Homo sapiens: one gene and its partners. The protein of the gene in region 4 interacts with the protein of the main gene of each other region in a biochemical or structural test. Each region holds a gene or a part of one and is shown on either strand. Other genes may lie near its edges. The genes, in order: ORC5, MCMBP, CDC5L, MCM5 and ORC3.

Region 1 (3,779 bases), on a different chromosome or scaffold from region 4:
GAGAGAATGGCTTTATTATAAAAGGGACTTCTGCCACCTCTTGCTCTCACTCTCATCCTCTCTTGTACTTCTACTTTCATCATGAGAGGAGGCAGCAAGAAAGCCCTTGCCAGATGCAGGGACCTCAACCTTTGACTTCCTAACCTCCACAACTGTGAGAAATAAATGTCTTTTCTTTATAAATTACCCAGTCCTTGGTAGTCTGTTATAGCAACTGAGTAATAGGCAGAGGTTGGAACAGGATGGAGGGCTCAGAAGACAGGAAGAAATGGGAAAGTTTGCAACTTCCTAGAGACTTGTTAGATGGCTTTGACCAAAATGTTGATAGTGATATGGACAATGAAGTACAGACTGAGGTGGTCATAGATGGACATGAGGAACTAATTGGGGACAGGGAATAAAAGTGACTCTTGCTATGCTCTAGCAAAGAGAAGGGTGGCATTTTGCCCCTGCCCTAGAGATCTGTGGAACTTTGAACTTGAGAAAGATGATTTAGGGTATCTGGTGGAAGAAATTTCTAAGCAGCAAAGCATTCAACAGGTGACCTGGCTGATTCTGAAAGCATTCAGTCATATGCATTCACAAAGAGATTATCTAAAACTGGAACTTACATTTAAAAGGGAAGCAGAGCATAAAACTTTGGAAAATCTGTGGCCAGACCATGAGGTAGAAAAGAAAAAACCCATTTTCTGGGGAGAAATTCAAGCCAGCTGCAGAAATGTGCATAAGTAACAAGGAGCCAAATGTTAACAGCCAAGACAACGGGGAAAATGTCTCCAAGGTCTTCACGTGGCAGCCCATCCCATTACAGGCCCAGAGGCCTAAGAGGGAAAAATGGTTTTGTGGGCCAGGGCCTTGCTGCTTTGTGCAGTCTCGGAACTTGGTGTCCTGCATCCCCACTCATGGCTAAAAGGGGCCAGCGTATAGCTCAGGCTGTTGCTTCAGAGAGTGCAAGCCCCAAGCCTTGGCGGCTTACATGTGGGGCCTGCAGGTGCACAGCAATCAAGAATTAACGTTTGGGAACCTCTGCCTAGATTTCAGAGGATGTACAGAAATGCCTGGATGTCCAGGCAGAAGTTGGCTGTAGGTGCAGGGCCCTCATGGAGAACCTCTACTAGGGCAGTACAGAAGGGGAATGTGGGGTTGGACCCCCCCTACAGAGTCCCCACTGGGCACTGCCTAGTGGAGCTATGAGAAGAGGGCCACCATCCTCCAGACCCCAGAATGGCAGATTCAACAGCTTGCACTGTGTGCATGGAAAAGCCACAGATACTCAACGCCAGCCTGTGAAAACAGCAGAGAGGGCAACTGTACCCCGCAAAGCCACAGAGGTGGAGCTGCACAAGGCCATGGGAGCCCACTCTTGCATCAGTGGGCTGGATGTGAGGCATGGAGCCACAGAGGTCGAGCTGCATGAGGCTGTGGGAGCCCACTCTTGCATCAGTGGGCTGGATGTGAGGCATGGAGTCAAAGGAGATCATTTTGGAACTTTAAAGTTTAATGACTGCCTTATTGGATTGCAGACTTTCTTGGGGCCTACAGCCCCTTTGTTTGGGCCAATTTCTCCCATTTGAAAAGGCTGTATTTACCCATTGCCTGTATCTCCATTGTATCTAGAAAGTAACTAACTTACTTTTGATTTTATAGGCTCATAGGTGGAAGGGACTTGCCTTATCTCAGATGAGACTTTGGACTTGGACTTTTGGGCTAATTAAGCTGGAATGAGTTAAGACTTTGGGGGACTATTGGGAAGCCACAGTTGACTTTGAAATGTGAAACCGACATGAGATTTGGGAGAGGCCAAGTGTGGAATGGTGTGGTCAGGCTTTGTGTCCCCATCCAAATCTCATCTTAACTTGTAATCTCCATAATCTCCATGTGTCAAGGGAGAGACCAGGTGGAGGTAAATGAATCTTGGGGGTGGTTCCCCCATGCTGTTCTTGTGATAGTGAGCTCACATCTGATCTGACGATTTTATAAGGAGCTTCTCCTTCCTTCTACTTTGTGAAGCAGGTGCCTTGCTTCCCCTTTGCCTTCTGCTGATTATAAGTTTCCTGAGGCCTCCCCAGCCACGCTGAACTGTAAGTCAATTAAATCTCTTTCCTTTATAAACTATCCAGTCTTGGGTAGTTCTTATCCAATTCCAAAGATGATCATTTTAACATGTCTTCAGAGTAACCAGGCATATTTGTTGCTCTAAAGTCTTTACTATCTCCTATCCACTCCCTAAGAAATTAAATGAAGTGCTTTAGTATAGTTTTCTAGACCTTCCACAATCTGCCCAACCTATCTTCCAGTCTTCTTTTTCTCCCGTCATACTTTATAACCCACTAAAACTAGACTATTTGGTACTCTCTGGCCTCCATTTTCAGCTGCATGCCTTTACTTATATAATTCTATCTGAAATTCCTCTACTTCAATTTCTTCCTAGAATACTCTGATTCATTTAGGTCTGTCTCAAATGCTAATACCTCATGAAGCTGTATTGGACACACACAGTCAATATTTTGCATCTGGTGACAATCACTTATCACATTCTGCATGTAGTCGTATGTATGTGTCATACCTTTTCTATTAAATGAAGCTTCCCTTGGATAAGGAATATATTTAATACATTTCTGTATACTAAAAGCACCTGGCACAGAGCACTGTACATAATGAGACTCAAAACAAATATATGAAAATTGATCTAATAAATTATCAGTTTTCAAGATAAGAGATGATCTAATCAAATGAAATTACTTACAATATATACAGTCTGATCTTTAAGATTTTCAGCTGTGGTTACTTGTTTAAACAAGCGAACAAAGTCATTAAATGTTTCACAGGTTATTTCAGTAGAACATCCATCCTCTGAAGAACTAAGATGATTCAATTTGTTTAAAATTTGTTCCAAAAGCAGCCTCAATGTAAAGCATTCAACACAATTCACAAACACATGTGGGAGCTGAAAACGAAAACCAAAACACTGTAAGTAAAGAAGAAAACACACAAACACAATAATGGCTGTGCTGGATAGTCTCCATTTGCCTTTCTAAATCTATATCCCACCAAACCCACCCCATGCCCCAAGAGCCTGACAGCTACAGAATTACATCACCTGGACTCTCTTATTTTCTGTCTCTGGATGGAGAAGCCAATGGAAAGAACCAGCAGGAGACTAAGGGAGAATGGTGGGAGAGAAGTTTGGATATTGATTTCCTTGACTCCCACCATGACCCCTCAGTGGCCCTAGCTTGGCAGTGGATACTCTTCTACCAAAGATCAAGTTGGACAGCCCCTCTTCTAAGGCTACACCTCTTGTTTGGTTCCAATAACAGCTCCTTTCTATGGTCCCTTCAGGCCTGGAGGTGGTAAAGGCCCTGGTGTACCATCATCCCTTAGTGATTCCCATAAAATTTCCATTATAAAACTGTCCCTTCATTAAACTCACTTCAATTATTTCTTTCAGCTTGCCATTTCTTTCTTATGGAAATTCAAAGCAAATTTGTATTTTCCTATAAAGAATTCTTATAAAGAAATCAGCCAGGCATGGTGGATCATGTCTGTAATCCCAAGGCTTTGGGTCAGGAGTTCCAGACCAGCCTGGGCAACATAGCGAGACCCTGTCACTATTAAAAAAAAAAAAAAAAGAAAAGAAATCTAAGCATATTTGAATGTTAAAAATCTTAATAGGAATTTCACACTTATAACTTTAATATAATATCCTTGAATAAACGTTTACTAAGTCAAAAAAAAAAAGAATTTTAAGAGTTAGAAACCATAGCAATCCTCCTACG
Region 2 (3,231 bases), on a different chromosome or scaffold from region 4:
GGAATACTTTGTGAAAACACAGAGCACGTTAGGAGACAAGACCGTATGGTAGTTACACACAAGTCAACAGCCAAGTTAGGCTTCTAAAAAGAAATCGTTGAAGAGTCAGAATTGGAAAGTGGCTCACTCTTTGAAGCTTAGAGAACAAGCAGCATGCCTGTTCCACTGAAGAGATCACCAGCCAAACTCGATTCCCCCTCAATGAGCCCTTTCATACAGCGTTTTTAAAAGGAAAAGTTCATTTCCGTTTTTAGAATTCTGCCTCAGTTACTGCTGAATAACTCAGAAGACATATACACAAGCTTACCGAAACAGCAATAATGGACGTGCGCCACTTACCGAGCCACCACGAGCAGCTGGTGAAGATCATCAGCAGTGATGCTCTGAGGGTCGTTCTTCCGCATTTCCACAAAGTCATCTTCAACTGCCTTTATCAAAAGAGTAAATGTAAATGATGTGCATTTTTGTAAGGAAAAGAAAATTAACATGGTTCCTTGACTGATGTAGTAAGGTGCATGTCAGCCTCTTAGACAAAGGAGGCAATATGGGTGAAAGTACCAAAGCATATACATACATAATGCTGCTGATGAAAATAAAATAATGAAACTCAGATTCATTTAAGGTCAAGCAAACATATAAATCAGCAACTGGCATAGGAAACAATGCTTTTCCACAAAGGAAGAGTGATGTTAGTGAAAATGGCAGAGAAGGGACCGCAGAAAACTGTCTCTACTGTTAACACTGATCAAAATCAGCTTTTTAAAAACTAGAAATAAAACCATACTTGCAGCAATCCAGAGAGCATTTATGCAAGAAAACCAGGTGATTATTGGTAAGAATGTTGAGCCTGGCAGCATTTTAACATGTCCTACTCCTAAATTCCAACCCCTTCCCCTCCAGGCGATAATTAGTAGCTTCAAAAATCAACAGCCTGGCAGCCACCGGAGAGAGAACAGGGCTAGGGCTCCTTCCAAGTGCCATTCCCGGAGAACTGTCATCTGACCACCTGTCTGGTGGCTCCCTGGAAGGACCCATTTGCAAGGTTGTCTTTATTTAACCTGACTGGAAGCCTGTCTACTATGAACCACCTCTTTCCCCAGGGCATTTATCAAAAACAATCGGAAGAAATTACCAATCACCTTAGCTACCTGAGACACTGGGTAACAGCTGCGGCAGACAGACTAACCCAAACCCTTCAATGGAAAAGCTAGCTGGGAAATGACATGTCTGTAGAGGGCTCTGAAAACCTTAAGTATGTAACTCCTAGGAACTCAGAAGGCTGCAGACATGCTCAGAGACCATAGCTCCCACCTCTGCATGACCTGGAGGCTCTGTGCGAGCAGGAAATGAAGGCTAAGGCTTGTAAATTGCATGGCTAAGTGTTGAACTGAGGGCTTGCCCCAACTTTTATTTTTATTTATGATTATTATTCACCCGTAGACTGGGAGACTACTACCCAGCATTTAAGGAAATTTCTTTCCAATCATTAACCACAAAACTAACAGAGCAGAGACTTCAGTGCCCACATGTGACAAAGATACAGACTTTATAGAATTAGTCAAAAAAGTTACTAAACAACCTACCAACAGTAACAAACAGCAACAACAATAAACCCTAGGGAGGTTTAATTTCCAGAGTAACTTCCAAAGCAGAGTTGCCATATTATATAATTTAAAATGTCTGGTTGTGGCTAGATGTGGTGGCTTACACCTGTAATCCCAACACATTGGGAGGCCAAGGTGGGAGGACTACTTGAAGCCAGGAGTTGACCAGCCTAGGCAATAAAGCAAGACCTCATCACTACAAAAAAAAAAAGAAAGAAAAAAAAAGAAAAGAAAAAACAAAAAAACAAAACTTTAGTTGGGCATGGTGGTGCACACCTATGGTCCCAGCTACTGAGGCAAGAGGATCACTTGAGCCCAGCAGTTTAAGGCTGCAGTGAGCTGTGGCTGTGCTACTTACTATTCCAGCCTGGGTGATACAGTGAGACCCCACTGACCAAATAAAATGTCTGGTTTTCAACAAAAAAGTACAAAGAAACCAGAAGGTATGGCTCACACTTTGGGGATAAGGGAGTCAGTAGAAAACTGTCCCAGAGGAAACTCAAACATTAGACAAAAAGACTCTAAATTGGCTATTTTAAACATTCAAAGAAATAAAGGAAACCACATAAAAAGAACTTCAGGAAAATATGAGAATCACCAAATAGAGAGTATCAATAAAAAGAGAGAAATAATTTTTTAGAAGAAGGAAATAAAAATTCTGGAGTTGAAAAATATAGTAAAAATTCTCTAGAGGTGCTCAGATTTGATCAGGCAGAAGAAAATCACTAAATTTGAAGATAAGTTCACTGAGATTAGTCTAAGAAACAGAACAAAAAAAGAAGAATGAGGGAAAATGAACAGAGCCTTGAAGACCTGTGGGATACCATTAAATGCAACATCAGATACACAGTGGTAGTGTCAGAAGGAGAGCAGAGAGAAATGAGGCAGAAAGAAACATGGCCAAAACCTTCCCAAACTTGTTGAAAACTTCCCCAAAATATGAATTATTCTGCACCTCCAAGAAGCTCAACAAACTCCATGTAGGATAAACTCAGAGATCCACACATAGACACATCATAATCGAAACTGTCAAAAGCCACAAAATCTTGAAAGCAGTGACAGAAAAATGACTCAGTGTGTACAAAGGATCCTTATCAGAAACTAGTTGGCTTCTCAGTAGAAACCAGAGGCCAGAAAGTGGTGGGAGGACATATTCGAAATGATGAGACAAAGACTATAAACCAAGAATTCTACATCCAGCAAAACTAGCCTTAAGGAGAAATTAAGACATTCCCAGATAAACAAAAACTTAAAAGAGGGCTGGGCGAGGTAGCTCACACCTCTAATTCCAGAATTTCGGGAGGCTAAGGAGAGAGGATCACTTGAACCCAGGAGTTCGAGACTAGCCTGGGCAACATAAAGAGATCCCCTATCTGCACACACACAAACACACACACACACCCAAACAAAACAAAAAAACCCAAAAAACAAAGAATTAGCTGGGCACAGTGGCACATGCCTGTGGTCCCAACTACTCAGGAGGCTGAAGTGGGAGGATCGCTTGAACCTGGGGGGGTTGAGGCTGCAGTGAGCCATGATCACAACACTGCACTCTAGCCTGGATGACACAGCGAGACCCTGTCTCAAAAAAAAAAAAAAAAAAAAAAAAGAATTTGCACAAGTAGAC
Region 3 (3,779 bases), on a different chromosome or scaffold from region 4:
TAAAATACACTGGGCTTTTTGCCACCATGTAAAAATGGACACAGCATGGTATGCTCTCATAACTTTTCCTTTCCTTATATTAACTGTCATTGCTGTGTTTGCTCTTGCTGTCTTATTTTACACACAAAAGTCTGGCAAGGTTCTAAACTCAATTCTGCCTCCAAAGCAGAATAAAATACATGGACTTGGTTACAATTCAGAAGTCTTTTCCACTTATTTCTGACCTGTAACTGCATTCTGATTCTATTTATTTAACAAACTCCTTGCACACACACATCCTCTACCACATTCTACATAAAATCTGAGATGGTTCTATTAGTTTTAAATGAGTATCTTAAGGATTTTCACTTAAGTGCTAAGTTTCAAATATTAATCATGAGTAATGAATGGCTCAAAGACTACCTCCAATATAAACCTCAGGGCATTTTTTTTTTTTAATCCATTCAGGAGACACCAGCCACGACAAAGCTGGACTTCATCTTGCTTGATAGGCAGTGATAGGGCCATAATTTAGATTCACGGTTCCAAAGTTCATGGCAGCAAAAATCAAACACACTGGCAGCCATGGCATACAGTGCTTACAGAGAAGGGCTTATCTCCTGAACCTAAGAGTGGAAAGGATAATTTAAGTATAGCATTTAGTTTATACAATATAACTGGAGTTCCTTCCCCACAACAAACTTTGAATAATGTTTATAATTTAGCAATCAACTGAAATGAAAGAATTACCACAATTGAAATAAAATATTTATGTATTTCAAACCAATAGAACTGTGTCTTCAAAAACTAAAACAAGCTAAAAGAAACCTAGTTCTGAATTAGTGATGGATACAAATAAAATGGGGGTTTGTTTATTCAAGTCTTTGAGCTGCTTTTCTTTTTTTAAAAGATTTCATGAACTTTCATTTGAAATAAGCACAGTTTACCAAATTAAAGGACTTGATTAAGTATTCTTTAAAAGTAACTAGCTGGGTAAACAATAAAGTAAGTTATCCAAGAGTCAAGAAAAGAAAAATGACTTCAGACTGCTTTATGAATATTCTCCAAAATCACCAATCCTTCAACAAAAATAGTTCAACGGAAGATTTCAGTTCCTGGTACTGAACTGAACAAAGAGAACCACATGTTTTTAATGGTTGCTCATAAACGACCCAAATAAATCTCCAAAAGAACAGGAGTGGCTCTTTCTGTATTTTTCCCTTTAAAATTCATAAGACCAATTCAACACAGAAATAAAAATTACTGTACTTTATGGCACCACTCACTGTGTGACACATTTATTTGCTGTCATGAAAGTTAGTACCTCAACAAAGTAAATGAGATTTAGGGAGAAAAAAATTTTCTACCATTTAAAAAAGCACAAAATGTTCTTGCCATTTGCGGCAAAAAGAGTTTACCCACCTCAAATGAGAAGATTTTCATACTAAGTAAGAAACCTAAGTATTTATATATAAATAATACAAAGAAGCTTTCCAAATAGCTTTTCAATCAGTGATGATGCTGATATTAGATCACAATTACACTGCTAACTACCATTTATAAGAAATGAAGCCTACACAACAAAAAAATGTAACTTACAATTTAACCACTGATGTTCTATTTTCCCTGGCTTTAACACTGAACCACAACACAGAGCAACAGCACACCCTGCTGGAAGTTGGTAATACAAATAATTAGCAGCACTGAACTAAGATTTTACCCAAGATGAGAATTACTTCAGAACCAGTCATTTCTCACTGAGAAAAAAAGAGGTTCACAGGCATTAACCATCAGCTACCTATATATATGTGATCTTAATGGTTAAATTAAAACTCAGAATAACTCAAATTAAAAGATACTGCTTTTTCCTGCTCATTTCCTCAGCCCCATACAGCCCCAACCACCCCAAGTGATTTTACTACTTCTGGCTTTAACCCTAAATAAAAATATTTTCAAATGCACTTTTTGTAAAGAGAAACTGGTAATCACATAAAAGAGGAAACCAAGACGATTTTCTGTATATGACTGCCTGAAGTACCCCTTCTCTCCCATCCCACCTTGGCCTTAGAAATGCCCCTAAAGATTACCATTAAAAATGCACAAGGCATAGCCGGGCATGGTGGCTCACGCCTGTAATCCCAGCACTTTGGGAGGCTGAGATGGGTGGATCACGAGGTCAAGAGATCAAGACCATCCTGGCCAACATGGTGAAACTCTGTCTCTACTAAAAATACAAAAATTAACTGGGCGTGGTGGGGCGTGCCTGTAGTCCCAGCTACTAGGGAGGCTGAGGCAGGAGAATCGCTTGAAACCAGGAGGTAGAGGTTGGAGTGAGCCAAGATTGCACCACTGCACTGCAGCCTGGCAACAGACTGAGACTAGGTCTCAAAAAAAAAAAAAAAGAATGCACAAGGCAGCCTGGTGGTCTGTGAACCACAATTTACATGCCATTGGCAAAATGCCTACACAGATTCTGGAATTCAAAATATGCAAACTATATTAAGAAACCACATGTCCTGAAACTGCATCTAGTATGTTTTCAACATTTTCACAGACATGAAAAATCATGGAAGCCACTAACTAGATAATCCAGCTCTGCCCTCCCTAACTCAAACTCACAGTAATCCAAGGATGAACAGAATTGTATTTAAGTTTTGTAAATGTACTCTCTTTGTTATAAAAAGAAAACTCCTCGTTACTGCTGAGATTCCTCTTCAGAGAAAACAGGCTATGCTAGCAATGACCTGCCTGTTCTGAGTGACTAGTATTGGCTTCTTGGCTCCTTGCTCCCACATCTAAAGGTTCTGATTGACCTCTGGTCAACTTGCAGGGCACTCTTTAGTCATGAAGGCCAACAATTCTTTAAAAAAAAAACAAAAACAAAACAAACAAAAAAAAACAATGAACAAGGCCAAGAAGATCCAACACTTAAGTGTAGTTTTCTCCAACAACTAAAAAGGCAATAAGCACCTCAGGTGTGTTTTTCTGACATTGTCTCCAGTGGCATTATTTAGTTCATTATCTCAATCAAAGTACATTTAAAATTAAAATTTTAAAAGGATACCAACCTCGAGCCTCTTTTCAAGTGATTCAATTCTGTCCTTTTTACTAGCCAGATTGGCCCGTGTGTAGCGGCTCTGCCCAGGAAGATATAAAACTTGACTGTAGCATTCTTCCCACACCTGGTTATAAGCTTCACTTGAGAGCTCTCCATGGCTCATTCCTTGTTTAACCACTTCCATCTCCTGCACCAAAACATCCTGGGCCTGTTTACAATAATAATTTCAATAAGTTTAAGTACTACAAACACTTGCCATATCCAGAGAGCTTTAGAAGACTAATTTTTTCCCTCATGCCTTGAGTCAAATCCAAGATGTGGTTGGTTGTTTTTTGGAAGGGTGGATAACAATACCTAGGAAAAATAGCTTAAGAAGCCTTTGAGTCAATGCAGACTGCTTTTTAAAAATCAAGCATCCATGTTTCCTCAAAAGTATAAACATCCTTTGCTTTCACTCACTATAACAGCAGCTATCATTTCTCAGGTACCTATTGTGTGTGTGAGAAACTAGGTTTAAAAGTTTTACCTACATTATATCCAAAGATCATAATCACCTTACAAATTAGCCAATATTAACCTCATTTAAAAGCTAATGAAATTTGGCCAGGCACGGTGGCTCCCTCCTATGATCCCAGCACTTCGGGAGGCTGAGGTGGGCGGATAACGAGGCCAGGAGTTCAAGACTAGCCTGGTTAACACAGCAAAACCTCGTGTCTACTAAAAATGTAAAAATTAGTAGGAC
Region 4 (3,779 bases):
CTTGTTCTCATCCTTTCTGATCTTCACTCAGGTCACCTCCCACAGTCCCTCTGGGCCACAGACTCACGTGTTGCACTTCCTGGGCAGGGCATAGCCCTCGAGGCCAGGGCGCATGGCAATGTTGGTGAGGGTGTTGCGGCAGCTGCGGCACTGGATAGAGATGCGGGTGGCCTTGGCACGGACCGCAGAGGCCGCGATGATGATGCCAGGGATCTTCACCAGGTGTGACATCATGTCCGACTGTAATAGAGCCATCGGGAAGCTTGTTGGTTAAGGGGAGCCAGGACGCATCTGAGATATGCCAGTAAATATCCTGGGCAGGAGCCTGGAGGAGGTGGGCACAGAGCTGCAGGGAGGGCCACAGCTCTTCTGTTCCGCTCAAAAAATGCTTCCAGAGCATCCACCCAGTGCCAGGCTATCTGGACCCTGGGGTTCAGAGGAGCCTCAGGCACAGCTCCTGCTTTTAAAGACCTCGCAGCACAATTGGGGGGGGAGGTGGCAGGGCAAGAGATACACTAAGCACATTTCACTACAAAGTGGCAGGTGCCAGGAGAGAGACCTGACCCCAGCTCTGATGGCGACATCCTTGGACCTGTAGAGTACAACACAGAACAAACCTGGGAGGCAGGGGCCCACATTCTAGTTCAAGTTCTGTCAAAACCTGCTGTGTGGTCTTCTGTCTGGGTCACTTCTCTTTGAGCCTCAGTTTCCCCATCTTAATGACTATTCCCACACCGGACAATAAGGCAGTAATATTTTTTCTTTTTTCTTTTTTTTTTTTTGAGACAGAGTCTTGCTGTGTCGCCAAGGCTGGAGTGCAATGGCAGGATCTCGGCTTACTGCAACCTCCGCCTCCCGGGTTCAAGCGATTCTCCTGCCTCAGCCTCCCAAGTAGCTGGGATTACAGGTAACTGCCACCATGTCCAGCTAACTTTTTGTATTTTTAGTAGAGACGGGGTTTCACTATGTTGGCCAGGCTGGTCTCGAACTCTTGACCTCAGGCAATTCACTGGCCTCGGCCTCCCAAAATGCTGGGATTACAGGCATGAGCCACCGCGCCCGGCCGTAATGTTAATTTTTAAGTGTGATGTTATTGTAGCTATGCCTTTAAAAATGACTCTTCAAAGGCTGGGTGCAGTGGATCACGCCTGTAATACCGACACTTTGGAAGGCCGAGGCGGACGGATCACTTGAGATCGGGAGTTCGAGACCAGCCTGGCCAACATGGTGAATCCCCGTCTCTACTAAAAATACAAAAATTAGCCAGGTGTGATGGCATATGCCTGTAATCCCAGCTACTCGGGAGGCTGAGGCCGGAGAATTGCTTGAACCGGGGAAGCAGGGGTTACAGTGAGCTGAGATCATGCCACTGCACTCCATCCTGGGCGACAGAGTCAAACTCCGTCTCAAAAAAAAAGAGATTCATCTTTTAGAGATACATGGAGAAATAGTTCCAGATCAAATTATATGATGTATGGGACTTGTTTCAAAAGAACTCCAGGGCCACAGATGAAACAAGATTTGGCATCTATGGATCACCTGAGGTCAGGAGTTCGAGACCAGCCTGGCCAACATGGTGAAACCCCATCTCTACTAAAAATTAGCCGGGCGTGGTGGTGTGTGCCTGTAATTCCAACCACTTGGGGGGCTGAGGCAGGAGAATCACTTGAACCCATGAGGCGGAAGTTGCAGTGAGCTGAGATCGTGCCACTGCACTCCAGCCTGGGCAACAAGAGCAAAAACTCCATCTCAAAAAAAAAAAAAAAAAAAAATTGGCCTCTAGTTGCTAATTATTAAGCTGGGTGATGAGTACAAGAGGATTCGTTATACGATTCTCTTTATATTCTAATGTTTGAATTATCCATAATAAAAAGTAAAACATAAATTCTCAGCCGATCCACTCCTTCCTATGGCCAGCCCTTGCCCTTCACAAAGCTCCTGAGCCACTAGTGTACAGGACTGGGACAATCTCTCTCCACCTTGTCTCCGTTTCTCAATGCCCTCCTCCGGCTGAACGAGAGAACCAGACATGAGCAGAAGTTTTGCTGGGGCTCTCAAAGAAAGCAGGAAGAGGCTGTGGGAAGCAGAAGCGAGGCTGGGGAGGCGGAATTCAAGACTCCATGCCTGCATCATTACAATAAAGTGACCATCACCACCTCAACCTAGCACCTGGTCAGTCTCAGCATAGTGGATGGAGGGATGCAATGAGGGATCCAATACCACCCATAAGCGTTCTTGCCCGGTATGTGAAATCGAAACACAGTCAGGCCTTTGCATCTAACTTCCAGCTTCCAAAAATCACGGGGGGGAAGGGGTATGTTGTAACCACCCCAAGGAGGCCTTCAGATAAATCTAAAAGGCAGCACATTCTACAGGATAATGGCTCCTGCTTCTTTAGCAAATCAATAATGTATCTGTGAAAGAACTTACACCCAGAGTAAAGGAAGCTGTCCTGGATTAAAAGAGATTTAAACAACAATCCAGTACAATGCCTGGTCCTGGCTGAGACACACGAGCTGTAAGAGTCATGTGAGGTAATTTGGTCAATCTGAATCTAGACTGTATATTCAATGATACTAAGAGATCTTTGATGTTTCAGTTGAGGTGCTAATGAGACTATGTAAGAAAACTTTTTTTTTTCGGGATAAAGTGTCATGTCTGTAATTTATTTTTTATTTTTAGAGACAGGGTCTTGCTCTGTCACCCAGGCTAAAGTGCTGAGAGGCACAATCAGAGCTCACTGTAACCTCAAATTCCTAGGCCCCTTGATCCTCCCACTTCAGCCTTCCAAGTAGCCTGGACTATAGGCATATGCCAGCATACCTAGCTTTGTTTTTTTTGTTTTTTTTTTGTTTTGTTTTTTGGAGAGCCAGGGTCTCAAACTCCCGGTATCAAGCAATCTTCCTCCCTCGGCCTCCCAAAGTGCTAAGATTAGAGGCATGAGCCACTGTGCATGAATTTACTTTAAAATTCTTTAGCAAAAAAGAAAAAGGACAAAATAGGAAACAACACAAAATGTTAATTATTAAATCTGGGTGAAGCTTTATGGGATTCATTATACTACTCTCTGCTTTTGGGTGTGTAATTTTTCATAACAAAAAGCAAAAAACAACAAACGATCCTTTTGTCTCCAGGAGGAGACAGGTTCAGAAAGGTCAAGTGCCTCACTCAAGGCCACACAGCTAGCACTCAGGTCTGGCTGCATCCAAAGCCCTCTGCACCATGCAGCAGCCACTGCCCTCCGACCCACCTTCAGGCTACGAATGCTGGAAGGGCTGGCGTCCGACTTGAGCATGACCTGGATGTCCTGGAGCACCTCCTCCCCAGAAGGCCGGGGCCGGGTCACCTCATCAGCTACCTCCTTGGCAGCTTCCTCCAGCTGGAGAAAGGGAAGGGCACAGGCTATTAGTAACTGGGGCAGAGCAGCCCTGGGAAGCTCAGGGATGGGGTCCCACTCACCAGCTGCAGGTGCTCGGCTGGCTGCTTGTACAAGTAGTCGGCCAGGTCCTCATCAAAGCTGGCCAGATCCTCCATCTCCACCTCAATCCAGTACTCCCCCAGGTTGTAATGCCGCTTGAGTTCATCCCTGGAGTGGGCACATAGCAGGGTGGGGCAGGAAGGGTGCAAAGAAGAGGAAACCAACACTGGCTGAGGTGTGCCTGCACCCCTGAATCTGCCCACACCACAGCCACCATGACCTCACCATTCCTCTTCCCAAACACACATCTAATTCCAGATCATTCCATTATTTAACCCTGCAGAGGCTACTCACTGCTGGC
Region 5 (2,688 bases), on a different chromosome or scaffold from region 4:
ATTTGTAGAGGCCTTACTGGCTCCATGACAGGTCATCCCGAAGTAGAATATTTACTGCCTAAATAAAGCCAAACAGTTTGGGACTTTTTTTTTTGACACGGAGTCTCACTCTGTCACCCAGGCTGGAGTGCAGTGGCCGATCTCAGTTCACTGCAACCTCCGCCTCCCGGGTTCGAGCAATTCCCCTGCCTCAGGCTCCCGAGTAGCTGGGACTACAGGCATGTGCCACCACACCTGGCTAATTTTTTGTATTTCTTAGGAGAGATGGGGTTTCACCTTGTTGGCCAGGATGGTCTCGATCTCCTGCCCTTGTGATCCACCCGCCTTGGCCTCTCAAAGTGCTGGGATTACAGGTGTGAGCCACCACGCCTGGCCTTTTTTTTTTTTCTTTAAAGTTGTAAGACTACAGGAAATGGAGAGGCAGAGACAGTTTTGGAACCTATGTAGTCACCAGGAGAAACAACCTGTAAGATATTCATGTTACTTACTGCCTACTACACTAAAGTGAGGAATGCCAATGCAGGGAATTGGGAGAGGAGGAATGAGGATTGCTAAAGCAACTGCAAATAATTTATACTCCTGGATAACGGAATTTATTACATTTACATACTCTAAGTTCAAGAATGATTTACTCACAATTTAGTAATGACTTTGGAAAGTACAGTAAAATGTGTGAGCAGTTTTAGTTACATTATTATTTGTTGGAGTCTAAAGTACTCCACAGGTGTTTTGATACATGCCTGTTTGGGGTTAGCAATGTACTTTTCTGGTTAAACATCAATGGGGGTTACACATTTATCTTCTCAACAAAACAGGCTCCTCTAATATATGTAAATATGACTGGTCACCTTTTTCTCTTAAGCTAAATGTGATAGTTCTGGCTTTGCTTATTTGCTTTCTAGCAGCCTCCCCATGTTAGTCTTGCCACATGGTCAGTCTTCTGTTTGGTAGGTTTTATAAATCCTAAAAGTTCTAGTTCAGAAACAGCTCTAATAAACCGAGCACTGGAGGCTTTAATTAAGGAAACTGGCCGTGCTGTATTTTTGACAAAAAGGGATTAAAATCTCAATGTTAAAATACTAGTTGGTAAAATGAAGTAGATAGTTCAGATATAAACTCCTAAATTAAACTATAACTGTTACTGGAAAACATTAATTAGAATCCACTATCAATAAAACATAAATGGAAAAGTACTTAATGCTTCCTAAATCTAATGTTCTACATAGTATGGAAATTGCTCCCCGCCCCCACTTCTAAACGTACATTAGAAAAATAGAGAATTCAGACCAGGTCAGTGGCTCACACCTGTAATCCCAGCACTTTGGGAGGCCGAGGCAGGCAGATCACCTAAGGTCAGGAGTTCAAGACCAGCCTGGCCAACATGGTGAAATCCCATCTCCCCTAAAAATACAAAAATTAGCCAGGCATGGTGGCAGGCGCCTGTAATCCCAGCTATTTGGGAAGCTGAGGCAGGAGAATCGCTTGAACCCGGGAGGTGGAGGTTGCGGTGAGCCGAGATCGTGCCACTGCACTCCAGCTTGGGCAACAATAGCAAAACTCTGTCTCAAAAAAAAAAAAAAAAAAAAGAATTAGGCCGGGTGAGGTGGCTCACACCTATAATCCTAGCACTTTGGGAGGCCAAGGCGGGCGGATCACAAGGTCAGGAGTTCGAGACCAGCCTGGCCAACATGGTGAAACCCCGTCTCTACTAAAAATACAAAAATTAGCTGGGCTTGGTGGCAGGCACCTGTAATCCCAGCTACTTGGGAGGCTGAGGCAGGAGAATTGCTTGAACCCAGGAGGCGGACGTTGCAGTCAGCCAAGATCGCACTACTGCACTCCAGCTTGGGCGATAGACGAGACTCCGTCTCAAAAACAAACAAACAAACAAAAAAAACAAAAACCAAAAAAAGAGAATTCAATAATGGCAGTTTCATTTTTGGTAAATTTTAAAATATAATCTTGATATAAATTTGATACCAAAAGTTTTAGGTTTGGTCTCATTTTGGATTAAATTCAAAATAAAGATTCAGAAATTTCAGTTATTCTAGCACCATATGGTTAATATTAACAAGTAATACGGTTGTTTGGAGTACGCCTTTATAAATATCTAGTGTAGACCTGGAGAAATTATAAACTTATATTTTATGTGTAGTTGGACATTGTAGAAATGGTTTTAAAAGGATACTGGATAATTTCATTCATTTCTTCTGAGGTTGCAGAATTTGCATCCATTTTTTCAGCAGCTGTCACAACTGTTGCAAAAGCCTTTTGAATAGACAAGACAGAAGAAAATAAAAATGTCTACAGTTGCCAAACATCTTTTACTATACTTCTTTTAATGGCTGTTGATAGCTGGCACATATTCTTCATTATATCAAATTTAAGATTGTCAAAACTACACTGATGATCACTTTAAACCACTTATATATTAAAAGATAAAGTAATGGTTCCTGAATAATCTTGTTTCAGAGAACTAAGAGTATGCAGAGAAAAGAAACGAAGCTAGTCAAAGGTAAAAGAACAAGAAAGCCCTGTTTCCTCTACTAATCTTACTCCAGGAAAATATCTATTTTTCTTGGAAGCAGCCAATTATGGATATTTTTTAATGGTGACAAGACATCTGTAAGGCCTTTAATAGAGTTAAGATCTTTGTAATACTATTCTGAAGACAGAAAGAATAGTTGT

The links.
Region 1: the proteins of MCM5 (region 4) and ORC5 form a complex in vitro, tested with the Homo sapiens proteins (one large-scale study listed by BioGRID and IntAct).
Region 2: the proteins of MCM5 (region 4) and MCMBP form a complex in vitro, tested with the Homo sapiens proteins (2 studies listed by BioGRID).
Region 3: the proteins of MCM5 (region 4) and CDC5L form a complex in vitro, tested with the Homo sapiens proteins (one large-scale study listed by BioGRID).
Region 5: the proteins of MCM5 (region 4) and ORC3 interact on a protein array, tested with the Homo sapiens proteins (one large-scale study listed by IntAct).

The regions. Positions count from the first base shown.
Region 1 is NC_000007.14:104,198,012-104,201,790, forward strand, and holds part of ORC5 (origin recognition complex subunit 5), read right to left. Parts: intron 2,948-3,779; coding exon 2,747-2,947; intron 1-2,746. UniProt on the Homo sapiens protein: Component of the origin recognition complex (ORC) that binds origins of replication. DNA-binding is ATP-dependent. The specific DNA sequences that define origins of replication have not been identified yet.
Region 2 is NC_000010.11:119,831,673-119,834,903, forward strand, and holds part of MCMBP (mini-chromosome maintenance complex-binding protein), read right to left. Parts: intron 429-3,231; coding exon 340-428; intron 1-339. UniProt on the Homo sapiens protein: Associated component of the MCM complex that acts as a regulator of DNA replication.
Region 3 is NC_000006.12:44,429,179-44,432,957, reverse strand, and holds part of CDC5L (cell division cycle 5-like protein), read right to left. Parts: intron 3,246-3,779; coding exon 3,048-3,245; intron 1-3,047.
Region 4 is NC_000022.11:35,403,014-35,406,792, reverse strand, and holds part of MCM5 (DNA replication licensing factor MCM5), read right to left. Parts: intron 3,587-3,779; coding exon 3,460-3,586; intron 3,380-3,459; coding exon 3,251-3,379; intron 241-3,250; coding exon 68-240; intron 1-67. UniProt on the Homo sapiens protein: Acts as a component of the MCM2-7 complex (MCM complex) which is the replicative helicase essential for 'once per cell cycle' DNA replication initiation and elongation in eukaryotic cells.
Region 5 is NC_000006.12:87,665,334-87,668,021, reverse strand, and holds the end of ORC3 (origin recognition complex subunit 3), read right to left. Parts: intron 2,269-2,688; coding exon 2,189-2,268; intron 1,012-2,188; coding exon of another isoform or gene 1,005-1,011; coding exon 899-1,004; 3' UTR 571-898; downstream 1-570. UniProt on the Homo sapiens protein: Component of the origin recognition complex (ORC) that binds origins of replication. DNA-binding is ATP-dependent. The specific DNA sequences that define origins of replication have not been identified yet.